7 separate regions of the Homo sapiens genome follow, and regions 1, 2, 3, 5, 6 and 7 are each reported to be linked to region 4. The links are microRNA targets in miRTarBase. Many come from high-throughput screens and were not tested one by one. Region 4 holds a microRNA gene; each other region holds the end of a gene's coding sequence.
The links. The annotated mature microRNA hsa-miR-548az-5p reads CAAAAGUGAUUGUGGUUUUUGC and lies in region 4 at 2,557-2,578, shown strand. An mRNA with a match to its seed (bases 2 to 7 or 8) in the 3' UTR can be bound and repressed. Matches are read on the target gene's strand: a 7mer-m8 pairs with bases 2 to 8, a 7mer-A1 pairs with bases 2 to 7 and ends in A, and an 8mer does both.

Region 1 (4,078 bases), not on the chromosome of region 4:
AGTTTTTAGTGACTTTAACATGTTACTGAAGCATTTGAATATAAAGCTATTTTAGTTTTGATGGCTTAACTGTTCCCTGAGGAGTTGAGGGTTATTGACACTAGAGAAATGAATTCTCATTTGATCCTAATTTTCCCCGTATTCTACTTGAACACATTAAAAATACTCTGCTGCCTATACAATGTAAACCTAGGAGCATTAAGACTTGTCACACAGTAAACCTGATACATCAGAGGTGAATACCAGCACCTATTAGGTTTCATTTTGCTGTTTTCAGGAATGTAAGAACACCCATATTGGCTACTGGAAATTCTAGAAGTCAGTCAGGTTTTAATTTATTCCAGGAGGGGCATCCTCGACATCTTATGTAGATGATCCACAACTTCAAAATTTAGTCTGGGCCTAGTGCAGTGGCTCACACCTATAATCCCAACACTTTGGGAGGCCAGGAGTTTTGAGACCAGCCTGGGAAACATCTGTCTCTACAAAAAAATACAAAAATTAGCTGGGCATAGTGGTGCATGCCTGTGTTTCTAGCTACGCAGGAGGATTGCTTGAGCCCATGAGATTGAGGCTGCAGTGAGCTGTGATCGTGCCACTGACCTCCAGCCTGGGGGACAGAGCAAGACCGTGTCTCAAAAACAATTTAGTCTGAAACACAATTGTGCTGAATCTGTCTGACTATAACTCTGACCACACAGAACCAGGGCTGCCCCTGTAATCCCCACAGTAAGAAAGTTGTATGGCATATTCCAACAAGTATTGGTTCGTCTGGTGTCTTTAGAGCTTTACTCTGTTGAAGTGACTGATTCTCAACTGAACATTATGTCGTTACTTTGATAAGCATTCCACTTTTGTTATTTATTAGTGCTATCTTTTTTTTTTACGTGTTAAATCTTGTGATTATTAAAATAAAGTACCATTGTAATTTAAAGTGACAAATGGGTATGAGAATTCCTTGCATAACAGATTAAAGAATTTGTAAACGGCAGATTTGCTATAACTGAACACTTGGTCTAGCTGTTGCCAGTATGTTACTCCTTTGAAATATACTCATGATGTAAAAAGGGAAATGGATCAGAAACTATACTTTAAATCCAAACATTCAAAACTGAATGCTTGCTTCTACCAACTTTTCTTCCGGGTCCTGAAAATATTAAGGGTTCCCAACATGGGAGAAAATACAACCCAACATTAGGTGATAAAATACACGTTTAAACTCTACAGAAATTAGTTCGAAAGAGATCTTTGAAAAATCATTTTAAGAAGGCAAAGTTCCAAACAGGGTTACACAGGAGTCTACTCAGTTTCCTGGCCATACAGGATTAACGCTGTGCCTTACGTTAGAGCAACAAACTTGACTGTCCGTGTATATATAGGTGAGGGACAAAGGGTTTCTGCAGCCAAGCACTGCACTCCATTCCGCTGCCTGGGCGGGCCTTGAGCAGGAAGGTCCCTCTTGCACCACCTCCTCCACTTCAGTTCAGCTCTCTCATGTCTTCCACCAAGAGGACATGGTCTTTTTCCACACAGATCACATGGGATGGTGAATCTTCTTACTCATGAAAAACAGCCCAAGGTACTGCTAATTTGGGACGTTTTATTTATTGGAAAGGTTCTTTCAAGGGAACTTTTCTGCAAGACCAAGCAATGTATGTATTTTTCTTTGGTAAATTACAATTTACATTGGCACAAAAAACACATGGTGACTAATGTACTTTGCTCTAGGACAATTAAAGAAAATGTATTTTATCCTCACAAATCCAGTGAAGCCTTCATTTTATTTCTAAAAGTTTAAGGAAGGTCTAGTCTACCAGTTATAAAAATGAAAACCAGTTCAACTCTAATATAAACATTATTTACATTTGTTTATAAAAATAGATTTGAGTTTAGGAAAAGTTGAACAACTAGTTATTTTTACTTCAGTTATTAGGTACAATGAATTCCTTGATTTTTCAAGGCTGACCCTGTTTCCTTGGTTAACAATTTCAATTTAGGCCTTATAGGAAAAAACGTAAGGGATCCTTTATCTGCCTCCAACTAGGTAAGTTATTTGATACCACTGACAGCTTAAAAAGTAATGTCCTAACCTTTCTGAAGATTCTGGTTGCCATAACCATGCTACTACAGTCTGTTGTTAGTTTGCTCTATTAAAACTAATTGGTCTGGAGAAAACCTACCTGCAGTTGTACGAGGCTGTTACTGGAGTAGCAGATGTTAGCTGATCTAACATACTTGGAACCAACTGATGATCCCATAAAAAATGCCAAAAATCCAATAGAATCAAAGCAACTCAATGACATTTAAGAAAATAAAAACTTTCTAAAGGGGGTATTGCTTTTTAAGTTTCCTATTTTGTTTTCATATTTGGGCACAGCTTTGTAGCACAGCATTCCCTTATGCATGGTTCTCAAATGCACTGGGATAGGAGAAAATAAAGACAATGTAGTGTCTTGGTTTCTTTTGCCCCCAAAAGCCACATTCATTCCGTTTAAAGGACTCCTCTTATTCAGAGATAGATTGTCCTTTCCTTTTATGAAAAAAATGGTGATAATACAGTGATTTATTCGGATTACTTGGCAAGGTAAATTGGCAACCTTATAGTACCCCAGATTTTTGGAAATATTACTACCGGTCCATAAAATACAAAAGTCTGGGAACCACTGCCATGTACAAGTTTAGTTTTGCAGGCTGTTAACAAATGTTAAGTGGGAAAAAGTTTCTGTGGCCAAACATCTGGGAAATGACAGTACAGAATTTCATGTAGTCATGTGAATCAATGGCAAGTACGCCTCCGTTCCCCAAAGATGGACTACTGAATGCACCCCAACCCACTGTGAACTGGAAAAACAGAGAACTAGAAAACATAAGAAATCCGAAGCACGATTCCTCTGACTTTGAAACTGCAACAACCTTCTTCATTTCAGCATTTCAACAGTCTGGCCTATGACTCAGCTGAAGCTAAGGAAATGGTACAATCAGCAACATTATCAATATTAAACTTTTAATATCAAATACTTTTTTTACATCATTACTAATTTATATAATTATTATAAAACAAACTTCAAAAGCTCCATGAAATCAGTAAGGTAAAAGTCCTTACTGAATATCATATAAACATCAGGTGTTACCAGGCTTGATTTCAGGAAATGTCACTGGTTTGTGATAGAAATTACCTATAAAACAATGTGGTATAAATGAATATCTGAATTTTACAATTATGTGGCTACAGTTTGCCCATTACTCTTCATAGGTATTACATCTTTAAAGTTCATTTCCATTCACACATTTTTGCTGCTGAAGCCTCGTTCTTCTTAAAGACTCTAGCTGCTTTGCTCTCAGCCATCGTTCTCTTGACAGCGTTGTCTGACCAGCACTGAGAGACAGACACCTGGTTTGAAACACAGAAACAAATTTAAGTCTAGAGCTGGGATAGTAAGTTTTAAATTTTTTTTAAGACCTAGGAATACTTTGTGAAAACACAGAGCACGTTAGGAGACAAGACCGTATGGTAGTTACACACAAGTCAACAGCCAAGTTAGGCTTCTAAAAAGAAATCGTTGAAGAGTCAGAATTGGAAAGTGGCTCACTCTTTGAAGCTTAGAGAACAAGCAGCATGCCTGTTCCACTGAAGAGATCACCAGCCAAACTCGATTCCCCCTCAATGAGCCCTTTCATACAGCGTTTTTAAAAGGAAAAGTTCATTTCCGTTTTTAGAATTCTGCCTCAGTTACTGCTGAATAACTCAGAAGACATATACACAAGCTTACCGAAACAGCAATAATGGACGTGCGCCACTTACCGAGCCACCACGAGCAGCTGGTGAAGATCATCAGCAGTGATGCTCTGAGGGTCGTTCTTCCGCATTTCCACAAAGTCATCTTCAACTGCCTTTATCAAAAGAGTAAATGTAAATGATGTGCATTTTTGTAAGGAAAAGAAAATTAACATGGTTCCTTGACTGATGTAGTAAGGTGCATGTCAGCCTCTTAGACAAAGGAGGCAATATGGGTGAAAGTACCAAAGCATATACATACATAATGCTGCTGATGAAAATAAAATAATGAAACTCAGATTC
Region 2 (4,078 bases), not on the chromosome of region 4:
TCGCCTGCCTCTTCTACGAGCAGCACAACCGCCCGCGCTGGGAGGCCACGCACAACTGCCCGTGCCTGCGGGACCTGCAGCCCGACCAGGCACGCAGGCCCGACTACGCCGTCTTCATGCTCAAGTACTTCATGTGCCTAGTGGTGGGCATCACCTCGGGCGTGTGGGTCTGGTCCGGCAAGACGCTGGAGTCCTGGCGCTCCCTGTGCACCCGCTGCTGCTGGGCCAGCAAGGGCGCCGCGGTGGGCGGGGGCGCGGGCGCCACGGCCGCGGGGGGTGGCGGCGGGCCGGGGGGCGGCGGCGGCGGGGGACCCGGCGGCGGCGGGGGGCCGGGCGGCGGCGGGGGCTCCCTCTACAGCGACGTCAGCACTGGCCTGACGTGGCGGTCGGGCACGGCGAGCTCCGTGTCTTATCCAAAGCAGATGCCATTGTCCCAGGTCTGAGCGGAGGGGAGGGGGCGCCCAGGAGGGGTGGGGAGGGGGGCGAGGAGAGCCAAGTGCAGCGAAGGGACACTTGATGGGCTGAGGTTCCCACCCCTTCACAGTGTTGATTGCTATTAGCATGATAATGAACTCTTAATGGTATCCATTAGCTGGGACTTAAATGACTCACTTAGAACAAAGTACCTGGCATTGAAGCCTCCCAGACCCAGCCCCTTTTCCTCCATTGATGTGCGGGGAGCTCCTCCCGCCACGCGTTAATTTCTGTTGGCTGAGGAGGGTGGACTCTGCGGCGTTTCCAGAACCCGAGATTTGGAGCCCTCCCTGGCTGCACTTGGCTGGGTTTGCAGTCAGATACACAGATTTCACCTGGGAGAACCTCTTTTTCTCCCTCGACTCTTCCTACGTAAACTCCCACCCCTGACTTACCCTGGAGGAGGGGTGACCGCCACCTGATGGGATTGCACGGTTTGGGTATTCTTAATGACCAGGCAAATGCCTTAAGTAAACAAACAAGAAATGTCTTAATTATACACCCCACGTAAATACGGGTTTCTTACATTAGAGGATGTATTTATATAATTATTTGTTAAATTGTAAAAAAAAAAGTGTAAAATATGTATATATCCAAAGATATAGTGTGTACATTTTTTTGTAAAAAGTTTAGAGGCTTACCCCTGTAAGAACAGATATAAGTATTCTATTTTGTCAATAAAATGACTTTTGATAAATGATTTAACCATTGCCCTCTCCCCCGCCTCTTCTGAGCTGTCACCTTTAAAGTGCTTGCTAAGGACGCATGGGGAAAATGGACATTTTCTGGCTTGTCATTCTGTACACTGACCTTAGGCATGGAGAAAATTACTTGTTAAACTCTAGTTCTTAAGTTGTTAGCCAAGTAAATATCATTGTTGAACTGAAATCAAAATTGAGTTTTTGCACCTTCCCCAAAGACGGTGTTTTTCATGGGAGCTCTTTTCTGATCCATGGATAACAACTCTCACTTTAGTGGATGTAAATGGAACTTCTGCAAGGCAGTAATTCCCCTTAGGCCTTGTTATTTATCCTGCATGGTATCACTAAAGGTTTCAAAACCCTGCATTCATTTCTGGAGTCCGTGATTTTGAAAGCACCTGGTGTTCCAGGGAGGGAACGCATTGCTGAGGTGTAGAGGTTAATGTTTTAAACCATAGCTCACCCTTTACAGTAGAAGTCACTTGACAATCTGGTAGGGGAGCAGGCGCTCTTCAATGGATTAAACTAACGGGTTAACATCTTAATAACCTTCAGTGCTTGTGTATACCAAATGTGCTGCTTTTCCTAGAGAAAAAGCTATTGTTCCTCTGTCAAGACTAAGCTAATTTATTTGAGCAGAAGGCTGTTGAATTAGCAGAAGAATGCTTCGGCAATTGTTGAACTTTTTACCTGTCTGCCCAGTGGCTCAGCACATCATTCCTTTAAGAGGAGCTAAATGAATAGGGTTAATCTGTAGGGAACTTGGTCTTTTGAGTTTGAAAAACTTTGATCTTTTCTCCTCTGCAAATGTGCTGTATAGTCTGAAGTTTCTTTCCCTGCTGCCTATCTCCTCTTAGTGCAGACCAATTGGCCACCGCGGAGCCTTAAAGTTCTTCCATTAAAGGGATGTGGGACTTTTACTTTAAAAAGGAGAGAGAGCGCGAGAGAGGAAGACTTGTAACAGTTAGTGAAGACCGGAGGCACAAGTGCTCAGCCTTTTAAACAGCTTTTCCCGGCATTGTTAGCCAGCCTGCAGGCAGCTAGGCATGGGTTGAAGCTTTATAGAAAAGGGCTCTGAATGCCCCACAGGTGGTCTGCGCACATAATCCCCCAATTTAAAGCGTTTTCCTTTGCTGGACAATTGCATTACAAAACTCCCTTCTTTTTCGCTCCTAATTGAACCAATGAACTATTATAAACTACAAGTTTTTCTTTAAAAAAATTGCCGGTGCCTAAATTCTATTGACTAAATTCTAGCAAGTTTTCTAACTGAACCTTTTAAGGCACCGGAAGTAAAAGCTGCTTCAGCAGACGTTTCTGTTTCGCGGATATTTTTATTCCTTATGCTTGTTATTTTCTGACAGATTAGCAATAATTTAAAAGTAATTGGTAAGATTGTGTGTTAATACTGAAAAGATAGCCCCAGGTCCCTTATTAACCTGTCAATCAAGATAAGAAATGGGCAGCTACCCTGCTAATGATGGGGCATCAATCATTGTGGGATGGGAGGGGCTTTGTTCTGCACATCCTGCTAAAATGTTTGTTCTCCTTACTTTACCTAATAGGAATCTTTAGTGGCTAAAAAAAATTTTAATAGAGTGGACGCTACTTTCTTGGCCGATCTTTCTCATGTAAGAGGCTTCGCATAGGATCTCCATAGTAGTAACATTTTGCAGATCCTTTTCAGAGTAAGTCTCGGTGTTAATTAAGTTATGCAATTAGAACCCCTGCTTTAGCTATCATGCCAATCTTATTTTTTAAAGCCAGAGACACTGTAAAAGTGTTCACCTCTCCAGTAGTTTTACTCATTAAAGAATTATTTTGTAACTTAGGTACCTATCAGTGGCCTACATCTAACCCACGTGTTGACTCATGTATAGTATACATATGCCAGCCATAAACTTTTTATATTCAGTTATAAAGTAGAATTTTGAGAGCAGATCCCAGAGTCTTTACCACATATGAAGGATGGAGAGAAAGCTACAAGACACAAGTTAGCATGTTGGCTTTCTCATGTAGCAGTATTGTCATTATTGACGCATTTTCAACTATATAGCACAGTGGGAAAATGTCCAGCTTTGAAGCTTTTTACCTTATTCTTCAATATATCATTATAAAATGCTATATTCGATAACTCAAGATGTATGTGTGTTTAAGCGAACTTATTTGACAAAAAACCCAATTTAAATTCTGAGGACAGTTCTCAATAAAAAGACCTGCATCTGTCATCACTAGAGACTGATTTTAGAGATGGTATTAAGACATAAGTGCTGGTTCTTTGCCTTTAAAGCTAAAACTTGAGTTGCATATTTGCCAGTACTCAGATGGTATCTACTAAGGGAACAAAACCCCAAAATTGATTTTAGGGTGGAAGAAAGAAACGAGTCTCTATCTGGCCAATTGCATTAGACAAATGAACACCTCTGTGTGCTATACAGGTGTGTCTTTAATTACATAAAACAAGTGTTAGTTTTTCAAAATCTTGTCAAATTGGGAGAGGGGTTGATGTGGTTGCTGTGTGGCTAGAAGATCAAGTCTAACATGATTAAAACCATTACTAAAGCCAAAGCTCATTAAAATTGCTTGTGGGAGAAGTTATGTGAAACACTTTCTATTTGCTTTATAATAAATGCAATTTGAAAGTACCATGAAACAGAAGGGAAAAAAGTTGATAAGAAAGTTTAAGGAGTAAACCATGGCACATTACAGTTTCTTAACCTGCACTGACCGCATTGCTGGTGCCTGTAATACTTCAGAGTTTGGGCAAAGAGAGTGAGATTGTCTTGCCAAAAGAAAACCAGGAGCAGTTGCAGAGCACGGGATGCAATTTAAAGTGTAGGTGCAAACGTTCTGTTGAGACATAAAAAGCAAATCAGTGCAAGTGTCTATCCGCTTTCCACATT
Region 3 (4,063 bases), not on the chromosome of region 4:
GGTTGTGTTTCAAGGGATGAGTTGGATGATACTGTATTTTGCTTTTTTCTGCTCTCTGGAAGAATTTGTGTGGGACTGGTGCTGTTTCTTCCTTAGATGTTTTGACGTAAGTAGTGATTACCCTTTAGTTTAAATGCTTAATCTGTTATTATTTGTATACTTCTTGGTATATGTAGAAATAATTTTCAAAATGAACACTTTTGCCAGGCACAGTGGCTCACACCTGTAATCCCAGCACCGTGGAAGGTCGAAGCAGGAGTATTGCTTGAGCCCAGGAGTTCAAGACAGCCTGGATAACAGTAAGACCCTGTCTCTACAAAAATATAAACAAAATTAGTCAGGTGTGGTGGAGCACATCTGTGGTCACAGCTGCTCAGGAAGCTGAGGTGAGAGGACTGCTTGAGCCTGTGAGGTTGACGCTGCAGTCAGCTGAGATCACGCCACTGCTCTCCAGCCTGGGGCAACAGAGTGAGATCGTCTCAAAAGAAACAAACAAACAAAAAACACTTTTGAAGACATAAGGTAGGTTAAAAAAATCCTTTGTAATTAGAAAATGTGTCACTTTTTTAGCTAAGAGCAATATAATCATCTCACCCTAATGACTAGACTAGGAGCCTCACCTCTGGCCTGGACAACAGTCTTTAACACGAATTTTCATCATTACCATCATCACCACTGACATTTAGCAGGCAGGACTATTTGCCAGGCACTGGGCTGCGTGTGTTGCACATGTCATTTCCTCTAATTATCACCATAAGCCTCTGTGGTAGCTACCAGTATTGCCTCCCACATTTTGGCAGAGAAAGCTAAATCACGGCAAGCAGTGTCCAGGATCCAGGACTTGAACTCCCGTAGTCTGACTGCAGAGTGTGCTCTTCACCCACATGTGCCACAGTCCTGGGGAGGCAGCATGGGCTGGTGGGGACAGGAAAGAGGGACAACCCGGGTTCCCACCCTACCTCTTCCTCTAACTGGTTGTAAGACCTTGAGCAAGTCATGTCATCCCCGTGGCCTTGGTGTCCTTGCCGATAAAAAGCAAGGGTTCGTCCAGACAGTTGTTTTGAAACTCTGCCCGAAGGGCCTGGGAGCTGGAGGGAACACCTTGAGAATCAGGCAGGAGAAGCAGCCTTCCTTCTTTTGTATCACAGAATTTTTATCTGTCCAAAATTCATGTTGAAACTTAACTGGCAATTTAAAAGTATTATGAGGTGGGGCTTTCAGAGGGTGATAAGTCATGGGAACAGAGCCCTCATCAATTCAATTAGATGTCTTTATTAAAGGGCTTGACAGAGGCAGTTTGTGCCTTCTTGCCCTTCTGCTCTGTGAGGACACGGCATTCAAGAAGCCATCTTAAAAGCAGAAAGCAGCCCTCACCAGACAACTAAACCTGCTAGCCCCTTGATCTTGGACTCTCGGCCTCCAGAACTGTAAGAAAATGAATTTCTGTTCTTTGTAAATTACCCAGTCTGAGGTATTTTGTTACAGCAGCACAAAAAAACTAAAACACAGAGTGACCTTTTCTATAGGATTTGAACAAATGGTTCTGACCATCTGACTGCTCATCAACTTCTGAGGTTCCTCTGTTCTAATGATTCTACTGAATCACAGAATCATTAGAATGAGTCTATGAATAGCCTATGATTGTATTATCCATCCCATTATCAAGCTCCTAATTAGGTATGGACTATATTCATCTAACCACAGAAATCGTCATTACAGACAAATGTTCATTTCTCTAACTTTTCTAGAATAAATCTCAGCTTTTATAATGATACCCAGATATCCTAAATTTTACCATATGATAAATTCCATTTAGAAACTATTTTCCCCCCATAAAGCAACATTCTTCTGTATAATACTAATCTTTCCTTACTTTCCACTTAATTTTAGTAATGTTCAGCACAGAACCTGATACACAGTAAAGGCACTCAAGTGACTGCTGAATCTGAGTAACAGTAAACTCAATCCTCAAAGATTTAAAAATCAAAGTGTCAGACAAAAATTTAACTTTTTATGAGATTTCAGTTTTTGAAATACACAACTCTTACAGCACAAACACAGTATTTACATTTCAAGTTCTTTGTACAAAAGATGTATGCCATTTTGGAAGAATATTGTTGAGATCATGATCTAAAATACCTGTCAGAGTTACTCATGGAATCTGCTCTTCACAAATCCATTGTATTATGACATAAAATATGGCTAGACGCCAAGGTTTAACCATACATAAAAATACTAATTCTCGGCTGGGTGCACTGGCTTATGCCTGTAATCTCAGCACTTTGGGAGGCAGAGGCAGGTGGATCACCTGAGGTCAGGAGTTCAAGATAAGCCTGACCAATATGGTGGAACCCCCGTCTCTACTAAAAATACAAAAATTAGCAGGGTGTGGTGGCATGCACCTGTAGTCCCAGCTACTCAGAAGGCTGAGACAGAACTGCTTGAACCCGGGAGGCGGAGGTTGCAGTGAGCTGAGATTGCGCCACTGCACTCCAGCCTGGGCAACAGAGAGAGACTCTGTCTCAAAAACAACAACAACAACAACAACAAAAACTAATTCTCAGTGATTGGCAAATGATGGCCTGAGGGTCACATCTGGCTGGTGGGCAGTTTTTGTACAGCTGCAAGCTAAACATGGTTTTTACATTTTTAGAGGGTTGTTTGAAAAAAAACAAACTAAACAACAGCAAGAAGAATGTATGACAAAGACACAGGTGGCCTGCAATAATTTACTAACCAGCCTTTTACAAAGAAAGTTTGCTGGCCTCTGTTCTATCAAAAACCAACTGAGAGAGATAGCTACTGGAATATACCAATGAGTATTAAACAAGACACCACTGTAATGTGCCAGTGCCATCAGCACTACTCATTTCTAAAATGAGGCACTTCTGTTTGAATATGTACATTTCCAAAACATAATTACATCTGGTAAGTAGTACTAACTCTAGCCCTTTGAAATTAGACCTGCACGTGAAATCATAGCATTCTTAGGGGCTGAAGTCAATAATTACAAAGCATTTCAGATGTCAATCATTGAGCTCTTCAGTAGTTAGTGGTTTAAGACCATTTACAGTCTTAAATATTAATAAAACTCATAATTTAGGTATTGTCAATAAGAGGTGATATTGCTGCATTATTTAAATAACATCTATAAAAATAGGTTTAGACATCCCAATTCGTTATACTCAGAAGCAAGAATAACTAGTTAACTTAGTAACTACTTAAAAATGGGAAATGAAAAAAAAAAAGTGCAAAACTTTAGCAAAAGGCTTTGGAATGCAAAGACTGGAGCCTCTTAGCAATCACTCCCAGCTGGCATAGGCTTCTCCTAATAAAGTTAGTCTGCAATGATTGCTGTGGGAAATTAACAGCTGTCTCTTGTCAGTGAGCCTTTTTATAAAAAGGATGACAGGTCCATGAGCAAATTCTTTAAAAGTAAAATCAGTTCAGAGCTGCTCAACACACAAGTTTTCAGTGGGTTGGTTAAATAATTCCTGGTCAGTGGGCTATATTCATGCCACAAAACAGCATGGTACTGGATATTTTCCTTCTTCGGGCCAAACTGCTAAGCATCACATCACAAAGACATCTCTGTGAAGCTGAGTTTTAAAATGCTCAGTAAATGCTGAGGTAGATGGTTTTCAAATGAAGATCTTCTATACTCTGATTCGATTGGGACTAGCTTCTTTGTGTATCCTCCTTCTGGGAAATATCTTCCGCTTAAGTGCAATTAACTAAATGATGAAAGACAGAAAATACATTTTAATTCTCACGTTGATGAAAGAATATAAGTGCATCAAACTTTCTAAGAGCCATATGACCTTAATCATTTCCACAATCTTATACATTAAAAAGACAACAAACAAATCTCCATCATTCCTCTTCCAAAACAAAAACAAATATTAGTTTTGTTTAGCTTTGTAGGGACAGTATGCCTAGATATGTGCCCACAAAGAGACCCAAGAGGATTAAAATTATTTCGGCCCATGCTTCATTTTTCTAAGACCTACAACTACAGATTTTTACACAGCTATTACCAAAGCATATTTATTTTCAAGATGTC
Region 4 (4,078 bases):
TAGTATTCCATGAGATATATATATCATATATATATGTGATATATATATATATATCAAATGTGATATATATGTGATATATATATATATCACATGTGATATACATATATTTTCTTTATCCAGCCCACCACTCATGGGCACCTAGGTTGATTCCATGTCTTTGCTATTGTGAATAGTATGGTGAACACATGAGTGCATGTCTCTTTTTGGTAGAATGACCTGTATTCCTTAAGAGTATATACCCAGTAATAGGATTACTGGGTCAAATAGTAGTTCTAAGTTCTTCGAGAAATCACCAAACTGCTTTCCACAGTGGCTAAACTAACTTACATTCCCACTAACTGTGTCTAAGTGTAACCTTTTCTCCACAGCCTCATCAGCACATGCTGTTTTTTGACTTTTTAATGATAGCTGTTCTGACTGGTGTGAGATGGTATCTCATGGTTTTGCTTTGTATTTCTCTCATGATTAGTGATGGTGAGCATTTTTTCATGTTTGTTGGCCACTTGTCTTCTATTGAGAAGTGTCTGTTCACGTTCTTTGTCTATTTTTAAATAGGGTTATTTGGTTTTTGCTTGTTGATTTGTTTAAATTCCTTATAGACTGGATATTAGACCTTTGTCAGATGCATGGCTTGGGAATATTATCTCCCATTCTATATGTTGTCTGTTTACTCAGTTGATGGTTTCTTTTTCTGTGGAGAGCTCTTCAGTTTAATTAGGTCCCACTTAACAATTTTTGTTTTTGCTGCAATTGCTTTTGGGGACTTGGCCATAAATTCTTTGCCAAGGCTGATGTCAAGAGGGTATTCCCTAGGTTTTCTTCTGGGATTTTTATAGTTTGAGGTCTTACATTAAAATCTTTAACCCATTTGTAGCTGATTTGTGTATATGATGAAAGGGTCCAGTTTCATTCTTCTGCATATGATTAGACAGTTATCCTAGCACCATTTATTGAATACGGAGTCCTTCCCCAATTTATTGTTTTTGTCAGCCTTAGAAGACTGCCTATATTTCTAATTGATTACTCCTAATGGGTTTCAACTTAGCCAGAAGGATATTTCCAAAAATCAGATCAATCTTATTATAACTCTAAACCTGGCATCTGACTTCTCTCAGTGTAGACCAAGTAACAACACCAGACATAAGGAAACAGTGTGTATTAGGTGATTCAACCATAACACCTCACTATCACTAATACAGCATAAGCAAAGACATCCCACTCCTCTACCATCTCCCCCTTCATACTACATAGACATCCACACATGCACACACGTACACACATTCACACCCCCCCACCCACAACATGCACACACCCCTTTACATCATCATCAATACAACAGGCACTGGGAAAAAGATAAAGAGAGGGAGAAAGCCAACAACACATCCAACCCTATCCATATCGACACATAAACCCTGTTCAATACGTATACTATACAGAAGCCCTGCACAAGCTTTTAAAAAAGGAAAGTTTTACTACCCCAAATTAAGACTATTTTTAATCAGAAGTAAATAAAAAGTTATTTGTCAAACTGAGATATCACTGTTTCTTGTTGCCCAGCAGGGAAGGAATTCAACAAAGCAAACCTGGCAACAGTTATTGAAAAAAAAAATAGAATTGTCTTACATTCACAAACCATTAACTTGAAACTTCTTCATCAAAACTTTTATTTGTGCAAAGGCCTAGAGGTAAGAATAATCATGATTTATTCAGAGAAAGAAAGAAAATTTCAGAATGTTTGGAGCAGAGAAAACAAGAGAGAAGGAAAAAAGATGGGATTGAGTGGCTAAATGAAGGCAGTTTATAAATAACCCCCAAAGTATTATTCTAAATGTAATGGGGGATGATATTTAATCAGGATAATGCTATGATCTGACTGGATTTTTGGAACCATCCCTCTGGCTCCAATAGAAACATTTTTGGAAGTAATGAATTCAAAATACGGAAGACCAGAAAGGAAGGTGTTTTGAGACTAAAGACAAAAGATGATTGCCTGAACTATGATAATAACAAAAGATGAAGGTAAGCAAAAAATAAAAGGAGAGCCATTTTATCAAATAGAAACACAAGGCTTGATAACTGATTACATATAAAAAGTAAATGAGAAAAGGGCAAGTCATGGAAAATTATTGGGTATTTGGCTTTTATAATTAGGTAGATGGTGGTAATTTCACTGATAAAAAGGACACTAAAGGGGGATATTTATAGGATTTTATGTGGTGATATCTACTAGGTGACTAACAAATTAGATCTGAAGCTCTGGAGAAATATCTTGGCTGAAGATATAGATTTGAGAATCATGATTGAAATTATATAATTGAATTTGTGAGTATGAAAAATATAATCCTCAAAGAGAGGCTACGTGAAGCAAAAAAATAAAAATTCTATCTAGGCTAGAATCTGGAAGAAAATTCATATACAAGAGATTAGCAGAAAGCAGGGAAATTCAAAACAAACTGGGAAAAAGCAGAGTAATTAGAGAAAGTTTAAAAAATGTAATAATAATAGGGAAAAATATTTCACAAAGTAGGGAATATTCAAGATTGTATTAGGTTGGTGCAAAAGTGATTGTGGTTTTTGCTGTTACTTTTAATGGCAAAAACTGCAATCACTTTTGCACCAACCTAATAAATTTGCTGCACAGAGATCAAGTCAGTTGAGGATCAGTTAAAGAAATTATTGGTGACTCTGGCAAGAGCACTTTCAGTGGTGTAGCATGGGACTGGTCTATCAAAACTGCCATCTTATAATCATTCATATAAAACAACTAACCAATAATAAGAATATGGAAGACAGACTCGGCCTGTGTGCTTTGGCAACTTTAAGTTCCTTTGGTACTGCATATGCTGATCAACAAAGTAAATGATATTGAAGGTGTTGAGAGTATGGATACTATGCAATAAGAAATTACCCACAACACAAATGTACCAGAATTTGATTTGACGTGGAAATTTTACAAAATTTGTTTTGGGATTCAAGCTTGCTCTTTGGAAGAATAGTGAAAGACTTACTTATCATCTCCGGAACTCTAAACTTGCTGATGATCAAGGATGAGACAACCAAAATTATTATCACCATAAAAATATTAGTTAGAAGGATTGCATATCATTCAAAGTGTAGTATTACTACCTAAACATTCACTTTCAAATATATTCAAAATTGACTTGGAGTAAAAATTAATATCCATATATGCTTTATATGTTGCAATTCTTCCCAGAAAATCTTATCTTAGGGTCCATTTCACCATCAATATTTACAATGGCAGAGCTCAAAACAGAATAGCTTGCTCCTCCTTTGATCTAAATTGAAAGTGAGAGTCTACTGTATTGGGATTACACAGGTTTAGTGTATTGACCTCCACTGAGAAGGCTGGGAAATCATTGTGTTGTACAGTAATGTCAAATTATACACTTTGACTTTGAGCATTTTTAATGACAAAATTAAAATAAAATGTGGAAATTTTAATATTTATTCTTTTTTCCCAGAAGTTCATGCCATGAAGTGATATTCATCTTCAACTTCAACTTAGGCTGAATATTGACTTTAACCCTTGGCTAGACATTCAGCTAAAATGTGTAATTTCGTGGACCCTACCCAACAGTGTTTCATGGGCTTTTTTAGAAGGGTCTGCAATGTAGCATGCTTGCACAACAGTAAGTAATCAAAAAGCAAGATTCTTGACAAGAAAGTTAATGTGTTTAATTAACATATTAAGCAATCTACAGTAGCCTGAAATGTGTTAATGAAAATCATCTGGGGGAAAAATAAAAGGAAGCCCAGAAAAAGTCCATATGCCTAGCTGATGTGCTAGTTAATTCTACTCAAGGAAGGTTTTCTGTGAAGATTAGTGTAGCAAGAAACAAATCCCTCTGAATTCATGACACGATGCATGCCAAAAGAATAAGGAATTTGGGATTATAAAAATGCCTTATGGTGTGGTTATAGGTACAGGAGAGAGAGCAAAGATAACTAACAACACAAGATTGAGAGAGGATAAATAAGGCAGAGCCCTAGGAGGGATTGGCCTTGGGTAAGAGAGGTCACTTCCTTTCTGGTAACTGATATGAAAGAGATAGGATAT
Region 5 (4,069 bases), not on the chromosome of region 4:
AAAAACAATGCAGATAACACCAAACATTGGACAATATTAAGAAAACTACTTACTAAGCTTAGGTAATAGAGGCAAGGGTTAAGGGCAGAAGTGATGGAAGTGTTTCTTTGTATTACAAACCCTCACCCTAAACCTGGGGTTTGGGCTCTAAAAAAGTAATTTAGGGAAGCAGATCAAGAGCCTGATTATCAGTTCTCACATGGAAATCTCAACAGATTTCAAAAGCAACTCACCACAAGTGTCAGACACAAAAGAATCTTAATAATCATCTAGCAAACTACACTAAGAACTCAATGACCAAAAATAATCAATCAAACTTCAAGACACACCAAAGCAACAGTAAAAGAGAAATAACTACACAAGCTAAGCTCTGTAGAGAAATCAACTAAAAATTAGGCAATTCTAGTAAATTAAAGACAGCAAAAAACTTAAGATTGAACTTCAATTTCCAAGGGTACTTTGAAGAGGTTGTTTGTAGGTTATTCTGTACCCCCTGATTCTTAAAGAAAGTGGAGGAGAGGGGGAGGCGACAGAGGAATGGAGGGAAAGGGGGAGGCAAGAGAGAGAAACAGGAGAGGATCCCTGGTTTTCCACAGGTATTTTATCAAAAATGTATGACTTCATAACTACAGCACTCTAACTTTTCTCAGTCTAACTGCTGAGGTCTCTTACGAAAGTTCAAATGGCAAGTCACCTTGTAGAATGACTTAACAGAGGAAGCCAAACTATACAGACCAGGGCCTTGTCCAGAGTGCAGTAAGGAGCAGGCTTTTGAAGTCATCTATTACATCTGCCTTACAACCAAACCCACTGTGTATGCCACATTATTCTTGGAGGGACCACTTTAAAACAAAAGTGATGGATAATTTACCAGAGGCACATGCTTTTGAAGTAAAGCTGTTTTTTGTTTTTGCTTGAGTAAGGTGCCAGGTACCTCTGAAGCCTGAAAACACAGGCAATAAAATTCACCTATTTATCTTCTTTACCAAAGAGAAAGCAATTTCTGAATACTATCTATAGTGCTAAACTAATGTGAACTGACTATCATTGCGATAAAAGTTTTTCCTTATGATGACAATAAAGAATGTTGCTGAAAGACTTTAATCTTGAGAGAGCAGAGGTAATGTGATGAATGTAATTTGCTCCCAGAGCCTCTAGAAAATAAAGCAGTGTGCAAAATACAATATGGCATTATTATTCCAGCTAGGTTTTTTGCGAAAATAAGGTTCCAAATGAATGAAGAAAACAAAATTTGATGCGCTAGGTTCCTTAACTTGCTATTGGACACATGGGTATTTCAAAAAAATCCACCGTGCCTACAATACTTGTTAAAGTACCAAAAAAGCACTGATACTGAAACACATTCTTTCATGGGTACTTAACGATTACAGATTAACGTGGCAATCAGAATACAAAAAAGGCCCAGAGCTATGTGGAATTTTTTCCTTAATACCTTTCAAGTTTGTCTGTGAAGACGGCAACTAGAAAGTGACCACTGTCCTAATCTCTAAAATGCAGGGAAAATGTACTCAAACAATTTTTTTTTTTATCTAGTCATTTATTTTTGACACAGAGTCTAGCTCTGTTGCCCAGGCTGGAGTGCAGTGGCACAATCTCGGCTCACTGCAAGCTCCGCCTCCTGGGTTCACGCCATTCTCCTGCCTCAGCCTCCCGAGTAGCTGGGACTACAGGCGCCCGCCACCACGCCCGGCTAATTTTTTTTGTATTTTTAGTAAAGACGGGGTTTCACCGTGTTAGCCAGGATGGTCTCGCTCTCCTAACCTCATGATCCGCCCGCCTCGGCCTCCCAAAGTGCTGGGATTACAGGCGTGAGCCACTGTGCCCAGCCAACAATTAAGATTTTAATTGTGTTCTATTTTGTATTGATACTTGATTTTAAGAACCCTATTCTAGTCTGGGTTTTTATTTTGGATCAGCAATTTAGCTTACACAGTCAGTACTGAAATGCAATGCTAAATTTAAGGAAACCTTGATCATGAATTCACTATAATGTATTACTGAATAGCAAGCTATTAAAATTGTGCAAAAAGTAAAGCACTTCACAGACTAATAACTGAACTTAATAAAAGATGTTGGTGGATCTCATTTTCACTGTTTCATGTACATGTCCTAAAATGCCAAGTAAATTAAACAACTTTTAATTTACTAAGTGTAAATTAAAAGTATCAAATGAAAAACATGAATTAAAAAAATTTCAGTCTACCTCCACCAGAACATCACTTTATTGTTAATCTATCATCAACAATGTAAAACTCTAATAGATACTCTATCTTGGTTTTTAAAAAGGTAAAAGATTACACTGGATTAGCTACTTTCTATGAAAGAAACTACAGCTATCACAGAAGAGGGAAAATTTGAATGACCTCCAAAAAAAATGCACACTATAAGCAAAAGGGAGTGTACATTAAATCAAATGTCTGTTAGATTCATTACTTTTGAATGCACAGTGACAATTCTGGAAACTGTACATGATAGAATCACAGAAATGACTTAAATAACCGGAATTACATTTTGTGTGTGATCATCAGACCTTTAAACAATCCTTGAATTTTCCATGTTATCAGAAGTTGTTAACAGCATCGAGACGGAAGTATATGAAATATAAGGACTGAAATAAAAGTGAATTTGAAAGATGGCTAATCTACTAGATTAGGTAAAGGGGGAACGGGTAAGTGGTGGGGAGGAGTAGGGAACGATGGGGTGGTTTTTTTCCCTTCATTTCAGAAGTAAGTTCTTCTACTGTAGTGTATCTGTTACATAGCTCTCCATTTTCAGTCCATTTCTGAAATTCATATCGCATAGCCTTTAGCCTTTTTCTACTTACTGGTCAACCCAACCAGTACTGTTGCCAAGCAACAAGTGTTACACGAGAATCTGAATGCATCAAATCTTCCTTGGCTGTGATTTCTTCGCGACCCCAGTTTTCTCTGTTTCTGAGTGGGGTTTGTTTTTTTCCTGGATTGTACACACAGGGTCAGGTGGAATGGAGTTCCAAATCACTCTGTGCTCCGCGGCATCCCGATTTCTTTCCGCAGCTAACCTCCCGACACGTCTGCTGCTGTTCTGTGGCAGAAAGACAATCTCCGTGTTCAGGCGGTGAGCTTGCTTTCCTTCACCCTTGACCCTGGGGTTGCAGGCCATGGTGTTGGGCGTATCCCTGAGTGCAGCTGTCCTGCGGGATTCACTTCCTAGTGCACCGAGATTTCCTAGGTTTCCTCAGAGTAAGCCCCCAGTTGCATCACCACCGACTGTGGTGTGGCTTTGGATGCCTGAGGCTGAGTTGATTCTGGTGGATGTCTGACCTCGCTTAACCAGACTCATCTACTGTCTTGCCATTCACACCCAGGCTGTCCAACCTTCATACAGCTGAGCCAAGTTATCTAGATTAGTTGCTTCCTTAATGACATAGTCAACCTGTAAAAATAGGCAGGATAGTATGTAAAGTCATTTAAAGCTTTTCAATTGTCTGCTGAATTACAATCAGCAGACAAATTATGCCAAAAGTTAAGTGCAAAGGACTCTATACTTACCCTGCTCCTGTAAGCCCCTTAATTTTCATATAAAATGTAATAACTATCAGAATAAAAAGCACAATAACCAAGTATACTTTAAAAAGAGAGCTAAGACAGTTATAAAGATATGAAAAGCACACAATCCATTAACCTACCAGAACGTTTCTTAAGTAAAAATATCCCAAACTCAGAAAATCTCTCATGGTTTTTGACAAACTTGACAAAACGGTTTCTTAAAAAAAAAAAAATTCTTGCCCAAGAAGAGTTCAAGTCTAGGTCCTATACAAGAATATAATAGTGTTTAAAAGAAAAAAAAAATTCCTTGCTGATGTTAAAATTGAATTACGGATGCCAAACCATGGAAGAACAGGATATTCAGTCTCTTAATTTTTATCCCACAGGAAAAAAATGTACATTTATAATGAAGACATCAAGAGGATACCTCTCTTGACCAAATGATCTAGCTTATCACCACCAAAGATGGCACAAACTGACATGTGTCTCTTGATGTAAAATACTGAGAAAGAAACATCACT
Region 6 (4,078 bases), not on the chromosome of region 4:
GAGGTTTATTCTGAGGAATTACTGAGACCAGGAGCTTTAAAAGCTTCAATTTCCCTAATCACTGAGAGGCAATCTTGAACTTCTATTGAACTTGGAAAGCGGTCAAGACTCACTCCATAATAAGAAGTTAAGGACTGTCACTACTTAAGGTGGAAACCTATTCATTTGCAGAAATAGTCCTCTTTCTACCAAGAGGCTAATGAGCCTCCCCTCCCCTTCCCCTCTCTAAAATAAAATCAGTTTGCCTTCTAAAATCAAATAACAGTTGCCAACAAATTAGGATTTATCCTAAGAGTTTGTCCATTCATTTCAACAAACATTTGAAGAATGCCTCATCTGGGCCAGTCTCTGTTTTAAGCACTTGCGATATAGCAGTGCATAAAAATTCTCACCCTTACAAACCTTTGATTGACCCAGGACTGACAGTAAGCAAAACAAACCAAACACGAGCACATTTTAAAAAGGTGTCTAAAAACCTGCCTGATAGCTGAGCTAATTCTCATAGGCACAAACTGCCCTGACCTGAGCTCACTCTTGGACAAGCAGTTCCCACAAATGAAACTAAACATGCAAACCAGACCCACTGTACAGGTGGAAGTTTCCAGCTTTCTCACAGTACAAGTTTAAGGTAGGACGCAGCATTTTATAGTGTTACGTCCTTCCTCCCCACATTCCTGTGAGGCGGAACAAGAACAATTACTTGACCCTGGAGGAAGACGACGCCTTGTGGTCAGGGAGAGAACAGCAGTTCATGCTGGCTGCCTCGTCTTTCCAGGCCTGCTGCTGCCCAGGCTTCTACTGACCTTGTTAGGTCTGATTCTAGAAAATGAAGGCAGGTACTCAAAAGGTACAGTTCACCCAGAAGAATGTAAATGTGACTGAGCTAAGCAAACGTACAGCTGAGTCTTAGTGTTGGGGGAAGTAGCTTTCATGAAGGCAAAGGGAGCCCCATTCTCGGCCGTATGGCTTGCTCTTCAGCCGTTGGAGTGCAGCTTTTTCAGAGGCGTGGACTAAAATGACCTCCTAAGGTGCACTGAAAATGTTGGCTGTAGATCTGAGGAGAGGGTCCATAGCTATAAAAATATTTGCAAGGGGATTGTAACCCCTCGAAGTTTAAGAACCTCTATGTTGGAAGTCTCTGCCTATCCCTTTGTAAAAGTGAAGATGTGTTGGAACGCTGCTTTCACAGTACTCTATGTCCCTCCCAGTTGCAACAATGTTGTTTCCAGCCTGGTTCAGCAGCTTGCTGGTGGTTTACTAGGCAGACATGAGCCAGAAACAAAATCAGCAACCCTGGAGTGGTCATTTAGGATCAGTTTTGTCTCCTTTTACAAAGCAATGAGTGCTTTATAAAAGCATTTCTCCTCAGGAAACTGGCTCCTCAAAAGTCGTTCTCCAAGCCAGCAGCTCACAGTAGATGGATGAGTTTACCTGTCCTAATAATACTTTTTATTATAATACTTTTATTACTGATACTTTATTATAATACTTTTATTACTGATACTGATACCTAGTAATACTTTTATTAGATGAAATGTATCCCCAGGCCTCCACATCAGCCTTCTGGGGCCCTGACAGTTGTTTACCAGTAGCTCCACAACCTCCACAGGCTTGTTCTCTCATCCCTGTGAGGGAAGGTTCAAAAGGCAACTGGATTCCTTACTATTCAAAATCACTGTGACTATTTCACACAAACTTCAACCTAGAGGATTTGCAGCTAAAGAACCTTAAGGTGGTCATCTGCCTCTGGGAAAAATGATTACTATATTCTCAAAACCAGCAGTTACAGGAACTATAGGAGAGAAAACAAAAACAATGTGCCCTCTCCCAAGAACACAGAGCATTTGCTAGGAGTTTTCTGGCATAGCCTTTACTGTGGCTACGCTTTCTCCTCTTAGGCACCAGCCCATGTTTCTGCTGCCTTTTACTGGACTCTGAAGTCCTCAAGGATGGGACCTGCCTATGCATATCTGCACATCCAACTTGGTACTGGTGCCTGGGACATCACAGACCCTACTGGAGTTCAGAGAGTGGGAATGGCTTGGAGACTTCCTGGTGTCCTAAAATATCAATTTTTACCGTTTCAAAATAGAAATTAAGGATAGTCTACAGAAGATGAAGCTTTTTGTAAAAAAAAAATCATATCCTAGAAAATGTATCTCGTAAATCTTTTTAAATTTTCAAAAGAAACCAGTGTAGAAACTTGTGATGGAACATCTCAGATACGGCAATATAATAATTTTGCAAATTCCATTATTTAGGTTACTGCCATTTCTAAGTCACAGAATAATTCAACAGTAATAAATATCATGTAACAGAATAATTTAACGCACTGATTGCTACTTTGATATTTATCATCAGCTTTCCATTTCAGAAAACATCACAGAAGTACAAATAAAATCTGCTTTTCTGAATATTCCAAAAGGCAGACAGCAGCTTATATAATTTCCGTTCTTCAGAAAACAGTAATTAGATTATGTAAACAACTGTCCGTAAGAGCTAAAAGTAAACTTGGAGGTTCCTGAGGATTACTGAACTTATGCAACATGCTAACTTTCTAAGACTAAAACTGGGAAGTTCCACAGATGTTAAAGATTTTTGTGTGTGTGTGTAAAATGTGAACATAGGATCTATTTACATAGTTGGAATTGGGAACAGTTTTTAACATGTTCTGAATCAGCTTTAAATGTTTATGAAATAAGCTTACATTTGTCTTATCCAACCATTTATAATCTTTATTCTATAATTCTCCACCAGTGCTAGAATTTTCTTCCCAAATGGCCTCAATTCGGACACTGAATAAACGATAATGAATTTTTTAAAGCTGTGCTTAAATATAAACAAAATAAACCGCTAAGTTTTTCTGGCTCCAAGCACGCCATATGAAGCATGCCAATGTCACTTATGTGCCCTGATCACATTCAGGCAAAGTGTTCTTCACTTTAAATACTCCTGTGTTCCATTATTGTTTAAGTAAAATCCTATTTCAAATGCCTTTGATAACAGAGAAACCGCCTGTAGACAAACTCTTTGAAAGTGACTGAATTAATGTCTTCTGTGATGTCAGATTTCCCCACTGGGCTCTTTTGGAAGCATTCTTCCTGAATTGAAGTCACTGTGAATATCCTTTAGATTTCATCTTGTTAACTCAGTTTTCAGTCAGAGCAGCACTTGGGCCTGCTGCCCTTCAAGGCACAGTGCAACAAATAGTGGTTACGGGATTTCCATCAGCCAAGGTTGACAACTAACAATGTAAAGAGAGCTCGAGTGTGGGCCAAGGCATCGGACCTTACACCTAACTTAGGACATAGGTCGACCTATGGATTATTAGCCAGTGAATGCTTTTCTTGTCTAACAGTCTTTAAGGGCACATAAGAAACTCACGTTAAATTATACCCTGACATATTATTATTCCATGAAAACAAAACAAATCTTCCAAAGTGCTTGTTTTCCAGTAGCTCTGGGTCTTGTCTCACCACGGGTACAGAAAGGTATTGCTCCGAGGCTCTGACAGGGCTACTGCTCTTGACTAATTGTTCTTGTCTTTCTGCTTTTCATTTGATGAGGACTTACACATAGTTACTTGCTGCAGTTTACTATCTCTCAGGTGCTTCCTATGGGAAGTTCATAAACCATTCTTCCATAACCTTTTGTTGATCACCATTTCCATTAGGGACTCAATAAGACATGCTCAGTATCTCCACCAAGAACCATTTATTGCAAACCAGCTGTGAAACCAACAGGGGTGCTTTAGCCAAATTAAATCCCATGTCGCAGAAGTCACAGATTTACAGCTCAAGGAAAAAAATCATCAGCAAGAAGAATCCAGAAGTCTCTGTCGGGCATTCTTCTCTCCATTATTTGCTTTAGTTTCACTGTCTATGTTCATACCTGTCAAAATTGAAAACAAATATTTATGACAGAAACATAGCAGGAATTACCAATACTAATCAATTTTTCTTCTGCCAAAAATTCCTCTCACAGTCTATACCATGTTTTGCTTCTTGGCCTAACTAAAAGAATCAATAAACTTTTAGTCCCCTTTGAAAGAGAAAGTCAGAGAGTAACAGAGAAGGAG
Region 7 (4,000 bases), not on the chromosome of region 4:
GGCAGACCTGAAGGAGAGGGTAGAGGAACTGGAACATCGCTGCATCCAGCTTTCTGGAGAGACAGACACCATTGGTGAGTGGGAGGCCAGGGCACGGCAGGAGGAGCTGCACAGCGGTCGGAGGGAACCCAGCATCTGAGCCCTGTCCTCCCGCAGGAGAGTACATTGCACTGTACCAGAGCCAGAGGGCAGTGCTGAAGGAGCGGCACCGGGAGAAGGAGGAGTACATCAGCAGGCTGGCCCAAGACAAGGAGGAGATGAAGGTAGGGTGTGGAACATCTCTGGGGGTGGAGGTGGGCACGGGCATGGGCATGGCAGCTTAGCACCCCTCCCTCCAGGTGAAGCTGCTGGAGCTGCAGGAGCTGGTCTTACGGCTTGTGGGCGACCGCAACGAGTGGCATGGCAGATTCCTGGCAGCTGCCCAGAACCCTGCTGATGAGCCCACTTCAGGGGCCCCAGCCCCCCAGGAACTTGGGGCTGCCAACCAGCAGGGTGGTGAGTAGAGCCCTCGGGAGGGGTGGGCAGGCAGGAGTAAGGGAGGGCTCGCGTGGCACTCAGAGCCCTGCCTCTCTCTCTCCAAAGATCTTTGCGAGGTGAGCCTCGCCGGCAGTGTGGAGCCTGCCCAAGGAGAGGCCAGGGAGGGTTCTCCCCGTGACAACCCCACTGCACAGCAGATCATGCAGCTGCTTCGTGAGATGCAGAACCCCCGGGAGCGCCCAGGCTTGGGCAGCAACCCCTGCATTCCTTTTTTTTACCGGGCTGACGAGAATGATGAGGTGAAGATCACTGTCATCTAAAAGCCGGCTACTGTCAGCAAAGCCTGAAGAAGTGGGGCTGGATACCCTGCCCCCACCATATCCCTACCATCCCTTCTCAGTCAACCCTTTACCCTTACAGTAGCAAGCATAGACCCCTGTCTAACGGGGGTAGACAGGTGCAGATGAGGTGAAGATCACTGTCATCTAAAAGCTGGCCACTAAATTAAAAAAAAATTAAAAGTTATGGGATTAAAAAAAGTTATGGGATAAAAAAGGTTATGGGTAACTTATGGTATAAAAGTTATGAAAAAAGGCCAGGTGCAGTGGCTCACGCCTGTAATCCCAGCACTTTTGGGAGGCTGAGGTTGGGAGTTCAAGACCAGCCTGGTCAACATGGTGAAACTGTGTCTCTACTAAAAATACAAAAATTAGCCAGGCATGGTGGCACGTGCCTGTAATCCCAGCTACTCGGGAGGCTGAGGCAGGAGAATCGCTTGAACCTGGGAGGTGGAGGTTGCAGTGGGCTGAGATCACGCCATTGCACTCCAGCCTGGGCGACAGAGTGAGACTCTGTCTCAAAAAAAAAAAAAATTATGAAAAAAGTTATGGGATTAAAGAAAGTCAGGATAAAAATTTTAAAAAGCAGGCCACTGTCAGCAAAGCCTGGAGAAGTGGGGCCGGAGGCTCCGCCCCCATCATGTGCCTGCCACCCCTTCCCAGTCATCCCTTTACTCTTACAGTAGCAAATAAGACCCCTGTCTAATGGGGGGAGACAAATGTGTAGACCCTTAGCCACCTTGGCCAGGGCTGACTCCTTAAATTTCTGGATGATGATGATTGTTATTTAATAGCCAGAGGCTCATATAATTGGCCTCTTTGGAAGAGGCCTCATGGCCTCCTTACTCTCACCAAAGCAATTTTTCCCTCAGGGGGGCTCCCATCTTCTTACACAGAGAGGCAGCTGAGGCAGGACAGTGGGGCTAACTGTAGACCAGGCGAGGGCACGGGCTGCTGGGGTGGCCCTGCTTCCCCAGTGTACATATTGTATCTGTGTAACATTTTGTATATTCCAGGGGTAGGGCCGCCCCCTGTATCATACCTAGCAGAGGTTGGAGCTGGCACATGGGGAGGAGGTTCTAATAATTATTTGGGGCTGGGAAACTTATTTATTGATAGCATAGGACAGAGGAAGGAGGCGGGGATGGGGTCGTGGCGCCCTGGTGATGCGACTCCTGTTTATTTTGCTTTTTATTTCGGAATAAATGGATTTAGCCATACTGCTCTGCCTGATGTGTTCCTGTTTCTCTCACTGGGTCCTGGAGTTTGTGCCACTGAACAGGGAGCCCCAGAGTGTCTGAGCATGTGCAGCTGGGCTGTTGGGACCTTCCAGGCTTGTTACCTGTATGCTGCCTGGTGACATCTTGGGGATTACACGGGGACTACCATGGTACCTATGGGGACAGTTTGGCCCCGATGGCCAACAGGCTCAGAAGCCTGATCTAGCGGTGGCCAGGAAGACAGGATGCCAGCACCCAAGGGCACTGACTTCCATCCAGCCCAGGTGTCTTCCATTCTGTCCCCCTGCCTCCCTCGCCTGCCTGAGCCTGGTGGCCTGTTCTGTCTGTCCCTCCAGAATGCCAGCCGCCCTGCCGGCGCCCTCCAGGCTGAGTTAATGGCCCTGCCCCCTAGTGGCCAGAGCCCGCTTCACAGGATGAGAGCCCCCTAAGCTCCAGGGGCTTTCCAGGAAAAATGTCCCTTGGAAAAGATGTGGTCTTTTCACCACCCCCAGCAGCACCCTAGTAATGGCTTAGCCCTTCCCCTCCCCTGAGCTCCAGAGAGAACACAACCAGCAGAGGAGACATTCCCCATCATCCAGAAATGGGTTTTATTCTCAGCCGAGGGACAGCAGGACTGGTAGAAACTGTCAGGCCACACGGCTGCCTGCACAGCACCCCCATGCTTGGTAGGGGGTGGGAGGGATGGCGGGGGCTGGCTGTCCACAGGCCGGGCATGACAAGGAGGCTCACTGGAGGTGGCACACTTTGGAGTGGGATGTCGGGGGACAGCGTTCTCTGGTAGTTGGGCCACAAGACTCCACAAGGATAGCACAGTGACTGATTCCCAGCGCTAGAGGCGAGGCGGTTGGCCATGTGTAGGTGTGTATATATATGAGTATTTATAGATATTTATAGAACAGGGCAAGGGCATACCACAGAAGGGGCACAAGTTTTCACCAACGGTCACACCTGAATGTATCAGCTCACCACTACAACAGATTAAGTCACAGATGAAGGGGGCTGGCTTTGGGGCTGGGGGAGCCACTGTCAAGTCACAGAACAGCCGTCCAGGCAGGCTTGGAAAGGGAGGTCTCCGAGAAGAGGAGGGATCTGTTTAGAGGTCGAAGGGGGGCCTGGGGCTCTCAGGACGGGATGGACTTGCCTGACCCGATCGGCTGGCAGTTGGAGAGAAAGCAGAGAGAAAACGGGAGAGAAAAGCGAGGAGAGAGCTGGTAAGGCAAGCGCAGCACACGGCCGGGGCCGGCCGCGCCGCAGCAGTGGTGGGAGGGCCGGGGAGGGGAGGCTGCAGGTGTGGGTGTGGCAAGGTTCCTGGAAAAGGGGCTGGAAGGGAAAGGGGAGGAAGATGGAGGGAGGAGCCGTAGCTTCACAGATAGCGCCTGGGGGCTGTGGCGGCCCTCCCCACCCCACACACGCTGGCCTCTCACACGGCACCCAGGCAGGGCACCCGCAATTCAGGCTGATGCTCGGCCCCCTCGGGCTTCCCTCTTCTCTGGTCACCCTGTCTTCCAACCCACTGGCCTGGGGCCACCCCTTGCCTTGGGGAGCCCCATGCAACAGCCACCAGGCCTGATAGAGAAAGAACACTGCTTGAACCAGGAGGGTGAAACTAAAAGGGATGGCTGGAGGGAGCGCCGGAGGCCCCTCTGGGTGTTCAGAAAACCCAGGACCCTCTGAAGGGACCCTGGGGGAGGCAGGGAGGGCAGGCAGCCGGATGCCAGTGGCCATAGACTTATAAGTCTAAGAGGGGAGCCTCAGCTGGTCGGGGGGCTGCAGGTCTCGTAGGTGAGGCTGGGCCCTTCCTGCTGGGAAAAGCAGAAGAGCGAGAGTCAGTGGCAGGAGAATGGGGGGTGGGCTCACTGGGCGGAGCTCAGCTGGGCCAGCAGGCACGGTCGTCCCCTTGGCTGAATGGCACAAGTGACCCTAGGAGCAACAGGCCAAGGTGCG

Region 1: the mRNA of MCMBP is a reported target of hsa-miR-548az-5p. Seed matches in the 3' UTR shown: 7mer-A1 at 3,091-3,097 and 7mer-A1 at 1,788-1,794.
Region 2: the mRNA of FZD8 is a reported target of hsa-miR-548az-5p. The part of its 3' UTR that is shown has no 7-base or 8-base seed match.
Region 3: the mRNA of GNPTAB is a reported target of hsa-miR-548az-5p. Seed matches in the 3' UTR shown: 7mer-A1 at 3,431-3,437 and 7mer-m8 at 3,245-3,251.
Region 5: miRTarBase lists SMG1 as a target of hsa-miR-548az-5p. Seed matches in the 3' UTR shown: 8mer at 2,636-2,643, 7mer-A1 at 2,179-2,185, 7mer-A1 at 1,054-1,060 and 7mer-m8 at 852-858.
Region 6: miRTarBase lists PANX1 as a target of hsa-miR-548az-5p. The part of its 3' UTR that is shown has no 7-base or 8-base seed match.
Region 7: the mRNA of GOLGA2 is a reported target of hsa-miR-548az-5p. Seed matches in the 3' UTR shown: 7mer-m8 at 1,105-1,111.

Annotation. Positions count from the first base shown.
Region 1 is chr10:119,828,210-119,832,287 of GRCh38, forward strand. MCMBP (minichromosome maintenance complex binding protein) reads right to left here. Exons shown (of 16, transcript NM_001256378.2): 15 at 3,803-3,891; 16 at 1,231-3,391. The coding sequence ends at 3,265. INPP5F (inositol polyphosphate-5-phosphatase F) reads left to right here. Exons shown (of 20, transcript NM_014937.4): 20 at 1-938. Among named protein-coding and RNA genes, the nearest start is that of MCMBP, 43 kb to the right of the region's middle.
Region 2 is chr10:35,635,710-35,639,787 of GRCh38, reverse strand. It overlaps FZD8 (frizzled class receptor 8), which reads left to right. Exons shown (of 1, transcript NM_031866.3): 1 at 1-1,541. The coding sequence ends at 443. Among named protein-coding and RNA genes, the nearest start is that of MIR4683, 3.5 kb to the left of the region's middle. RefSeq lists enhancers at 123-984, 1,671-2,293, 1,474-3,334.
Region 3 is chr12:101,743,508-101,747,570 of GRCh38, forward strand. It overlaps GNPTAB (N-acetylglucosamine-1-phosphate transferase subunits alpha and beta), which reads right to left. Exons shown (of 21, transcript NM_024312.5): 21 at 1,992-3,734. The coding sequence ends at 3,657. LOC124902997 (a long non-coding RNA gene) reads left to right here and starts at 483. Exons shown (of 2, transcript XR_007063424.1): 1 at 483-522; 2 at 1,281-1,460. RefSeq lists enhancers at 251-340, 461-570.
Region 4 is chr8:119,322,634-119,326,711 of GRCh38, forward strand. MIR548AZ (microRNA 548az) reads left to right here and starts at 2,538; the gene lies at 2,538-2,632.
Region 5 is chr16:18,806,212-18,810,280 of GRCh38, forward strand. It overlaps SMG1 (SMG1 nonsense mediated mRNA decay associated PI3K related kinase), which reads right to left. Exons shown (of 63, transcript NM_015092.5): 63 at 1-3,435. The coding sequence ends at 3,358. Among named protein-coding and RNA genes, the nearest start is that of ARL6IP1, 6.7 kb to the left of the region's middle.
Region 6 is chr11:94,180,603-94,184,680 of GRCh38, reverse strand. It overlaps PANX1 (pannexin 1), which reads right to left. Exons shown (of 5, transcript NM_015368.4): 5 at 2,713-3,891. The coding sequence ends at 3,812. Among named protein-coding and RNA genes, the nearest start is that of PANX1, 54 kb to the right of the region's middle.
Region 7 is chr9:128,253,864-128,257,863 of GRCh38, reverse strand. It overlaps GOLGA2 (golgin A2), which reads left to right. Exons shown (of 27, transcript NM_001366244.2): 24 at 1-74; 25 at 157-263; 26 at 339-495; 27 at 583-2,035. The coding sequence ends at 797. It overlaps DNM1 (dynamin 1), which reads right to left. Exons shown (of 22, transcript NM_004408.4): 22 at 2,620-3,210. The coding sequence ends at 3,150. Among named protein-coding and RNA genes, the nearest start is that of MIR3154, 11 kb to the right of the region's middle. RefSeq lists enhancers at 1,806-2,308, 2,309-2,813.